Linked DNA regions of Homo sapiens: region 1 is linked to region 2. The links come from fine-mapping of genetic effects on gene expression. A gene starts in region 2. The other region holds a variant in brackets. All regions are shown on one strand. Distances are between the middles of the regions.

Region 1 (5,384 bases), 120 kb after region 2:
AATTTAGTTTGCCCACACTAGAAAGAAAAGCAATGAACATTTTGGATTATTCCCAGGAAGATAGTCTGTGATTTGCAATAACATCATAAGGAAAATAATTTAAAAATATGGGCCCAATATGTTCTTTATTTGGCTCCCCTATGAGTCCTCAAACAGAAGCACCCCTGGGTGGAGTCAAGAGAGGCAACAAAGGAAAGGAGGTTTTGGGTTTGTAGAAATGCCTAAAGTCATCCTGCTCCAGTGCCTGGAGGGCACTGCAGAATCACTGGTGCTGCTGTTAAATCTAGTGCAGATGACAAGTTATGAGAAAGTGTATTTATGTTGCCTTATCTGTTACAGTGATTGTTTGGGGAAACCAGCCCCACACCACCTGCTACCCTGAGTCCAGCGGAGACAAAGGAGTTAGAAAGAGACAGAATAAGCGTTTAAAAAGCAGGTCCAGGGGACCTGAGCATCGGAGGCTTGCTCACAGCCCAGGCTCTGCCTGATTTATTGGTTTACAAGCTCTTTGTTCTTAGGGCAGATGGGAGGGGTAGGAAGGGATGAGGAAAAGGATTAATCAGTGAAGGAGAACTCATGAGTCATTCAATAATATGTGTAGCTGTGGTGGTTTCTGTGAATTTCCTTGAGCAAAGGCATGTGTCTAAACTACTTAAGATCTTTAACTTATCGGGACTGAAATGGGTGGGAGTGGCTTTCAGGAGGGGCCAAGATGTTTGATTATACTCCACTGCTTCAAGGGAGTGTTACCTCCTTGAGCAACTGTGGAATTCTGCTGAGTGGTTATGCTGTCGGGGCATAAAGACATGAAGGCAATAAGAAGACTTTTCTCCTCAGAGGCCGCCCATGGCTCCCCTTGGGTGTCTCACACAGGGAAGACCAACTCAGCTGGCACCGCAGAAACTCTCTTTCCCACAGTGATCAGTATAGCTGCCCAAAAGATACTGTGGATGGAAGGGCCAGCTGCCACATACCCTCCTGATGGAAGTACCGAGTACATTGGCCTGAGACTGGAGTCCTCTCCAATAGCCCACTGTCCAGCCCCTGGCCTTACCAACGCTCAGGACAGATTAGAAATGGACCGTAAGTCAACAGCACCCTCCTTTCCTCAACTTGCCACTTGGGTGGGCATTAGCTCATCCAGAGAATTTGATTTGGCAGATACCATGCTTCTTTTATATCATTTCTTTGCCACCTAATTTGTACTTATGATTGTAGAAATATAAGAAAATATAAAGAAGTAAAAGAAGAAAATAAAAAGAAATTATATTTCAAAGATAACCAGTTAAGCTTTGGTCTTTTTTAAATAGACATTTAAATTAAGGAGTAGTGCTAAAAAAAATACATAGAAGCACATACTTTTTTTCCTTACAAAACCAGATGGTGGGAGAAATGAAGCTCTGCAGGGCATTAGGTCAGATCTTCCTTTCACTTTATTGTAGAGTAGCCTCCACTGCAGGGAGAGAATTCAGCCTGGCACGTCACCTCATGCTATCCAGTGAACCCTGCCCCTCACAGAACACAATTCTGGTCACTCTGGGTGACAGAAGGGGACTTGTAGTCAGTTTCAGCTGCAGAAGGGGTTACTAGCCATGTATAGAACTTTTTTAATTCCAAGAAGTTATGATTTTTAGAATAACTCTAAACAGGCTGGGCGTGGTGGCTCACACTTGTAATCCCAGCATTTTGGGAGGTCAAGGTTGGCAGATCACCTGAGGTCAGGCATTTGAGACCAGCCTGGCCAACATGGTGTAACCTCGTCTCTACTGAAAGTACAAAAATTAGCTGGGCGTGGAGGTGCAGGCTTATAATCCCAGCTACTTGGGAGGCCGAGGCAGGAGAATCACTTGAACCTGGGAGGTGGAGATTGCAGTGAGCTGAGATCATGCCACTGCACTCCAGCCTGGGTGACAGAGCAACACTCCGTCTAAAAAAAAAAAAAAGAATAAACCTAAATATAATCCTAATGTTATACACCTTCCTGTCACCTTCCATCTTGGTGTGCACTTAACACCCCTGAACAGGTTTGACCAGCTCCTTAGAACCATAGTAAAAGACTTTACAATTTGAGAAGGGAACATGAAGAAAAATTTAATCTCATTTATCAAAGTAATACATATTAATCCTGAAAAAATAATTCAGAAATACAGAGGGTAAAAGCAGTCATTCTACTTTTGCATTTAAAAAGTTCTTTGTTGTTTTGGGTTTCCCTAGTATGTTTCTAAGGGGTGTGGGTTGGCTTCACACTCGTCTCTTTCTTTTTGTAGACCCATTTGCCTTATATATTTTAAAGCTGTGCTGATAGGTTCAGGGTGCATGTAAGTTTATGACAAATCATTCAATAGTTACGGAACGGTTGCTGTACACCAGGCACTGTC[C/T]AGGGTCCTGAAAAGAGTCAAGAACAGGATAGAACAGGCTAGAAGCGCCATCTAGTGGATGGTACTTGTTTTATACAAAATTTAGCCGGGTGTGGTGGCGCACGCCTGTAATCCCAGCTACTTGGGAGGCTGAGGCAGGAGAATTGCTTGAACGCTGAAGGCGGAGGTTGCAGTGAGCCGAGATCGCACCACTGCACTCCAGCCAGGGCGACAGAGCAAGACTCCGTCTCAAAAAAACAAAAAAGAAATAAATTGGACTATTTGAAGGAGAATCCTTAGTGTTCCCCCCTACCCCCATTTGCTCTCGCTGTCTCTGAGACAGGGTCTCACTCTGTCGCCCAGGCTGGAGTGAAGTGGTGTGATCATAGCTCACTGCATCCTTGACCTCCTGGGCTCAAGCTGTCTTCCCTCCTCAGCTTTCTGAGTAGCTGGGACTATAGGTGTGTGTCACCACGTCCAGCTGATTTTTATATTGTTTTTTTGTAGAGACAGGGGTCTCACTATGTTGCCCAGGCTGGTCTCAAACTTCTGGCCTCAAGTAATCCTCCTGCCTCAGCCTCCCAAAGTGCTGGGATTACAGGCACGAGCCACCGTGCCCAGCCTCTCAGTTCTCTGTTTTCATCATAATTCAACATTTCACAGATTAGTGTTAGTAGTCTATGTCATAAGAAGTTTATTTATAAAGGTAACAAATAGGTTGAAAGATAATTACAGTAATTCTTATGCTCCTATATTAACAAGTATTGAAAAACTTCACCCTCCTTTCTTAGGGGGTGCCATTTAAACTAACAGATGAATTTTAAAGGACTGCTATACCCCTGAAGGTGTGAGAAAGGAGCATTCTATGCAGTGGGAAAAGTTGCTGCAAAGGCTCAAGATGTAACTGATTGGGCTGATCAGGTGACAGAAGGGAGGCCACTGTGCCTGGATGAGAGTCACAGTGTCAGAGGTGCAGTCAGAGTTGGGCAGAGGCCTGCCTGCGGAAGACCATGTTGGCCAGGTTAACCAATTTGAAGTTGCTTGGGGGAGATTAATTTCAGTGTCAGGAGGCCAGTTAGAGCACCATTGCAGGACTACATTTGAGAGAAGATGGTGGCCAGGACTAGGGATGATGTGCTGTGGAGATGGAAAGAAATGGGTGGATTTACAATGCATTTTGGAAGAAGAATAAACTGGACTTGCTGATGTTTTAGATGTGAGAGGGTGGAGAATTAAGAGCAACTTCTAGACTGGGCGTGGTGGTTCATGCCTGTAATCCCAGCACTTTGGGAGGCTGAGGCAGATGGATCACTTGAGGTCAGGAGTTTGAGACCAGCCTGGCCAACATGGTGAAACCTTGTCTCTACTAAAAATACAAAATTAGCCAGGCATGGTGGTGTATGCCTGTAATCCCAGTTACTTGGGAGGCTGAGACAGGAGAATCGCTTGAACTCAGGAGGCAGAGGAGGTTGCAGTGAGCCGAGATTGTGCCATTGCACTCTAGCCTGGGCAACAAGAGGGAAACTCCATCTCAAAAAAAAAGAAAAAAAGAGTAACTTCTAGGTTTCCTGACTTGGACATTGTTCGACAACTTAGGGATTGATTATTGGTTTTTTATCAATATGAAATATTCCATTCTATGCCCATTAAATGCTTAGCCTTAGAGTCTGTTTTGTCTCATATTAATAATTCTACACAGCTTTTTCTCTTGTTGTTAGAACTTGCTTGGTGTACCCTTTTTCCTTCCTTTCTTTTCAACCTTTTCTATTGTTTGGTTTTATTGTAGGTAAATCTCTTGTAAAAAGTCTCCTCCCTTCTCTGTCTCCCTCCTTCCTTTTAATGAGGAAACATAACATGTTTGTATACATTGTGATTAAGGATAGACTTGGACTTTGTAACACTATATTAGTGTCTTTTATGGCCCATGCTTTCTCTCCTATATTCCTCCTTGTCTGCTCTTTGGTGCAGTAAAAATTGAGTGGAAAAACCAGAAACAGGGAGACTTAGAAGGCTTACACCCGTAGGCACACTGGGTCTTTCTAGAGTCACCTTCATCTTTTCTGGGCCCACCTCACATGCAGAGCTTTCTGGTTTAAGACACAGCGAGATAGCTCCCTCTTCATGGCCTGTACCCACTCCCCATTGAAAGCATTGTTTCTCATTCTTTCAAAGACTGTGTTCCTTTCAAATTTTTTTTTTTTTTTTTTTTTTTTCCTGAGACAGCCTTACTCTGCCACCCAGGCTGGAGTACAGTGGTGCAATCTAGGCTCACTGCAAACTCTGCCTCCCAGGTTCAAGCAATTCCCTGCCTCAGCCTCCTGAATAGCTAATTTTTGTATTTTTAGTAGAGACAGGTTTTCACCATGTTGGCCAGGCTCGTCTCGAATTCCTGTCCTCAGGTGATCCACCTGCCTCAGCCTCCCAAAGTGTTAGGATTACAGTCATGAGTCACCACGCCTGGCCTTGAATGTTCTTATTTCCATCCCTTGCCCCCATTTAATTATTGGGCCTCCCAGTCCAACAGAGAATCACTCCTCTTGTCCTGTATTAGAAATGAAATATTCTGATGAAGGATCCGGGAAGACTGACTCCTGCTCTGCCAGTCCCACTTCCTCCATGCTGAATTCCCAAAGGAGATCCATGCAAGGAACAGTAGCCTGTTAGGAAATGGAACTTACCAACTGTATCTCATCATTACTGAGTTGGTGCCTGTTTCCCTAATTCAGGCCCTCTGCTGAAGATGAGTTTGATGACATGACTCTTGGATGACCATAATTTATTGTCCAAACTGGGAAACTCTGTAGAATAAAAATGAGTGAAAGAAAGGGTCTGCCATTAATAATCATACCAAGAAACCATGAAGATCAGTATATGCTGTCCTGCTTTTTAGATCAGACTCAAGCAAGACTTCTACTGCCCTCTGGAGGCTGCAACCAAATCTCAGGCTATTACCCTCTGCCCTGTCCCATAGCAGAAGAACAAAGTCACAAAAAGAGAGGGCAATGAAGGTCCCAGCTTTAAAAGAAA
Region 2 (5,384 bases):
TCAAACCCCATCCAAGCTTTATGTTTCAAAAGCTTCTTCTTGAGTTTCTTCCCAGGGCCAAGATGAGTACTGCCTACTGAGAAATCAGAAAACACTGTTAGCACCAAGGAGAGATTTGCTGGATGCCACTTAGCAAATTTGCCGGATGCCACACCGGCAAATTTCACCAGCGCCTGGCCAGGGGCCAATGTAGGACATGGAATCCTCTATTCCTCCCTCATAGGATGAAGGGGTTGGACTATAAATATGTAATATCTTCCCATAATAACCACATTGCAAACAGCTTTATATAATGTTTATTGATTTTTTCCTGATTAAAAGTTAACTTACTTTTATTGTAAAAACTTAAAAGCAGCAAATGATTAAGAAAAATCATCTCGGTCTACCTCCAAAGAGATAACCACTATACATTTTAAGATTTAAGATATTTCTTTCAAAGGAAAATCTCCAACCATACTACTAATAATTATGATTTTACAAATTCTTGTTTTTGACTTTGGGGATACATATTTTCACAATTATCATCATAGCATTTTTTAAAAAAGGATTTTACAACAAAAAGATTTTTTATTGCCAAGGATACAAAATAATGTGAACAAAAGGATCCCAAGAAAAAGACTGGGAGTCTTTATACCAACGTGTTAGCAGTGGGTAGTTAACTCTGGATGGTGTAATTACAGGTAGTTTTAAGGTTCTTTTCATTTTTTTTGTTTGATTTTTACATTTTCCATAGCTTCCAAATGTCCTGTGAGATAAAATATTACACTTAAGATTTAAAAAAAGATTACTTTCATGTTGCCATTCTTCATGCTTATTTTAAATGCTACACAATAACCTATGGTGTTGATAAATCTTCACTCTCATTGAAAAAGGATCAAGTAATACAGAAATATATAGAATTAAATATATAACCTACACACACTACACACACACACACACACACACACAAAGTACTTATCAGTTTAGATGGGAGTCCTAACCCATTTTCTCTGCATTTACATACTTATATGTTCACCTTCACACATATTGCTTATTTTTCAAAAACATACTTTAGATCATCACAGTTATATACTGTTCAGCAACCTGCATTGTTTTTTAACTCAATTTCCGTATTTCACAATAGTCTTAACAATCTTTCAATACAACACATATAGAACTACCTCATTCTGGCATAGTATTCTAAATTGTGGCTATATTATCATTTACTTAATCATATTCTATTTATGAACCATTTATTTAGTAAAAGTTTATATTTCCATTTTATTAATATTTAAAAGTTTTTCTTTGTAAATATTTTTTTTTTGCTGAATTATTCCTTTAGAATAATCAGAGAATTACTGGTTCAAGGATTTGCTGGTTGATATGTACTGTCAAATTGCTTTCCAAAAGCACCATGCCAATTCACACCCCCACTAATTGACAGTAACCCTTTATCACAGCTAAGCCAGCAGGGTTTTTGTTTTTAACCTGTGAGCAAAATAACCTTACTAGTTTGATTGCTTATGAAGAGATTGAAATTTTTCTTTCTAACCCCCTTTGAATGTTTTATTGGAAAAGGGTGCGAAATCTTATTCAATCCCCTGTTGCTGCTATTGAAGTGATCATACTCTTTTCCCCATGTCAACTTACTGGCCACTTACTGTATACACTGAATTTATTAAGTAATGCAATACTTTCATTCCTGTGACAAACCTTAATTCTGGAGGACTATTCTTTCCATCACTATCCGAATTCAATCTGGTATGAAGGTCCTTAAGACTAGTTCCACCTTGTGTATAAGACTGCCTACAGTGAGTACTCTCATCAGACTTCTGATCAGATTCTGACGGACCTCCGGTCCCAGACGGCACAGGGCCCTCTATCAAAGGCTCCCTTTCAACGTCCTTTCTCTATTTCCAAACGTGGCAATCCATTCTTTCCACGTATAGGCTCCTCGCGGCCCTGTCCCTGGGACCTATCTGGCCCCTTGGCCGGTCCGTGTGCATCCTCTCCCGGACCAGGCCCCAGGTGGGCAGCAGCCGGGATTCCGAGGCGGTGGGGAACTCACTGCCCCCCGCACCCCGACAGACAAGGCTGGTGTCCCCGGGGAAAGGACGCAGGGGCCGCTCCTAGGGCCATGGCCCCTGGGAGAGCCCCTTTTTCTCCCTCGACGTTCGTGCCCACCCCCTCCGACCCCACTCACTGTGCGCAGCTGAGAAGCCCGACCTGAGTTCACTGGCTCTGCAGCAGGAGGCTGGCTGACCGGTACTTCAGCTTCTACCGGCACGAGAACAATGACCGGACAGGAAGTGCCTCGGGATGGGCTTCCGGCTCCCCAAGTCGCCAAGCCGGCCTCTCTAGGAACCTCGGAGGTGCTTTCCTCTCGATGGGTGTCCAATGTCGCCCCAGACCAGGGATGGGGCAGAAGCGCTTAGGAGGATTGTGCTGTTGGAAGCTCTAAGTGAGCCTCAGGGAGGGGCGCATCCCAAGCAGGGATGAGACACTCAGGCGAGGCGCGCACCCAAGAGCCTGAAGCTACACAGCATTAATCTGTAGAAAGCCCTGATAATTTCCCCTCAAATGTTTTATTTTGAAAATATCAGAGTACAGAAGAGTTGAAAGTATGGCACATTGAATACCCGTATTTTCCATGTGGACTCAACAATGAACATTTTGCTATGTTTGCCTGATCTCTCAATACATATTTAAAATCATTTTTTTGAAAGTTGTAAACATCAGAACACTTCATTCCAAATACTTCAACATGCATCCCTTAAGATTAAGAATATTCTTCAAACTACCACCACCGTCACAGGTAAGAAAATCAACAAAAATTCCCTAATACCATCTAATAACCAGTCATATTCAAATTTCCCAACTGTCCTAAAACATGTATTTTATAACTTTTTTTCAAATCAGTTTCACACACTTTAGTTGGTTACAGCTCTTTAGTTTTGGGTTTTCGTTGCCATTGTTGGTTTTTACTTTTTATTTTGAAATGATAGAATCACAGGAAGTTGCAAAGATAGCACCCTTCACCCACTTTCCCCTCATGGTTACATCTTACATAAAATGAAAAAGGAAATCAACATTGGTACAGTATGTGTGTATAGGTATAGCACCTATAGATTTGTGTAACCACCACTGCAATCAAGATACACAAGTGTTCCATCACCACAAAGACCTTTCTGGTGCTACCTTTTAATAGTTCCATCCAACCCTCTCCCCATTTTTCCTCCCACCATCCCTAACCTTTGGCAACCATTAATCCATTTTTCATCTCTATAGTTTTATCATTTTGAGAATGTTATATGAATATTTTCATACAGAATATGGCCTTTTGTGATTATTTTCACTCAGCATTAATTCCCTTGAAATTTATTTGAGTTGTTATGGATATCAATAAGTCAATTTTATTGCAGAGTAACAAGTATTCCATGGTAATACATAAACCACAATTTGTTTTAACCACCTAAGGAAGGATATATGGGTTGCCTACAGGTTTCGACCATTACAAATAAAGCTGCTATGAACATTCGTATACAGGTTTTTGTGTGAACGCAAGTTTTCATTTCTCTGGGATAAATGCTCAGAAGTGCAATTCCTGAAGCATGACATATACATGTGTGGTTTTACAAGAAACTGCCAAATTATATTCCAGAGTGGCTGTACCATTTTACATTCCCAGCAATGTATGAGATCCTGTTTCTCTTCATCCTTGCCAGCAGTTACCACCATTAAAAAAAAAAAGTTAAGCTATTCTGATAGGTGATATCTCACGATTTTACTCTGCATTTCCCTCATGCCTAATGATGTTGAACATCTTTTCATTTGCTTATTTGCTATCTATACTTCAGTGAAATGTCTGTCTTTTGCTTATTTTCTAATTGTATTTACTTATTACTGTTAAATTTGGAAAGTTCTTTATGTAGTTTACATACAAATCCCTTGTTGGATATGATTTGCAAATATTTTTTCCCAACCTGTAATATCATCTTTGTAAAAAGGTCTCTTACAGGGTAAATTATCTTAATTTTGATGAAGTCCAATTTAACATTTTTTTTCCTTCTAAGGAGCATGCTTTTGAGTCATCTGAGCCTTCTTAGCTCAGTCCTAGGTCCTGAAGTTGTTGGTTTACTGCCTATGGATATCCAATTACTCCAACAGTATTTGCTGAAAAGGCGATCCCTCCTCCATTGAATTGCTTTTGCCCCTGTCAAAAATCAATTGGCCATTTATGTGAGTCTATTTCTGGTTCTTAGTACCTAACGGCTCTCTAGTATTATCTTTTAAAAACAAGCCTCCTCATCCATGTTTTATACCTTTCATATCGAAATTTTCATACATACACAAAAGCAGAGAATGGTATAATAAACTCACAGCAGACTCAAGACAGCTTGAACAATTTTCACTCCCCTCTCTTTTTCATCATAATAATATTTTGAAGAATCCAGGGCAGCTTTCTTATGCAATATTCCACGTTCTGGATGTGTCTGTTTCTCGTGGTGTCTTTTATTTGTTCCTCTGCCTCCTGTATTTCCTGTAACCTGGCAATGAGGTCCAAGAAGCTTGATTAAATTCAGGTTGAACATTTTTCAGCTTATTACATCACAGAAGGTGGCACATTATGTGGGCTGTCTCAATCTAAGCAATGTGACATTTTGTTACTCGGTGAAGAGGTAAATCACAGCATTCTCCATTGTTAAAGTACATATGTCCTTTGTAATTATTATATAAGCTGGGATGATTCAACAACCTGGATGAAACATTTTTATATTCATTATCTCATAAGAACTTTGTGAGGTAGATATTCTTCCTCCTGTTTAACAGATGAGGAATTCAAGGCTCCAAGAACTGAAGAGATTTTTTCTGAGGCAGATGGCAAAACCTGAACCACATCCAGGTCTTAAGACTTTAAGCCTTAGGCCCCTTCCAGTTTTCACTCTTGGCTACCTTTCACTCTAATGAGGAACCAGCCCCCAAGAAACTGTGGGGTTGAATTAATAACATTTATGATAATCAACACACCACTTTGACATTATTAAAAAACACAATCTTCATATTCAGGTATTATTCATAGTCCAGCTACAGAAACAGAACTTTGAGAATTACAACATAAAAATTACCAACTTAAGAATATAGACTGAGTTAAACCCACAAATGTACTCAAGGGCACAGAATGGTTCACAGGGGGTAATGGGCACTGACTGCCCACAAGTGGATTCTGCACTGGCTTAATCAGTGAAGAGCTTGGCTCCATGTGAAAAATTTATGTCCCAGTAAATTTAGTGCTGGGACAGAATGTTGTTTCATTAGTAACAGGCTATCATTTGACAGCAATGATGAAATATTGATTAGAATTCACAATGACTGTGGCAGGGATCATCAGCTCAACTGCGGGTCAA

Evidence for each region. PIP is the estimated chance that this variant, and not a neighbour inherited with it, causes the effect.
Region 1: its variant is fine-mapped to the expression of ZNF35 in whole blood (TOPMed, PIP 0.99).

What each region holds. Positions count from the first base shown.
Region 1 is chr3:44,530,022-44,535,405 of GRCh38, reverse strand. No RefSeq gene overlaps it. Among named protein-coding and RNA genes, the nearest start is that of ZNF852, 22 kb to the right of the region's middle. RefSeq lists silencers at 2,235-2,529, 2,421-2,549. The variant C/T (reference allele first, on the strand shown) is at 2,379.
Region 2 is chr3:44,645,633-44,651,016 of GRCh38, reverse strand. ZNF35 (zinc finger protein 35) reads right to left here and starts at 2,285. Exons shown (of 4, transcript NM_003420.4): 1 at 2,183-2,285; 2 at 1-76. It overlaps ZNF660-ZNF197 (ZNF660-ZNF197 readthrough), which reads right to left. Exons shown (of 8, transcript NR_147692.2): 8 at 2,546-5,384. ZNF197 (zinc finger protein 197) reads right to left here. Exons shown (of 6, transcript NM_006991.5): 6 at 2,546-5,384. All of the region lies in intron 2 of ZKSCAN7-AS1 (ZKSCAN7 ZNF cluster antisense RNA 1), which reads left to right. RefSeq lists enhancers at 1,803-1,912, 1,993-2,162, 2,041-2,600.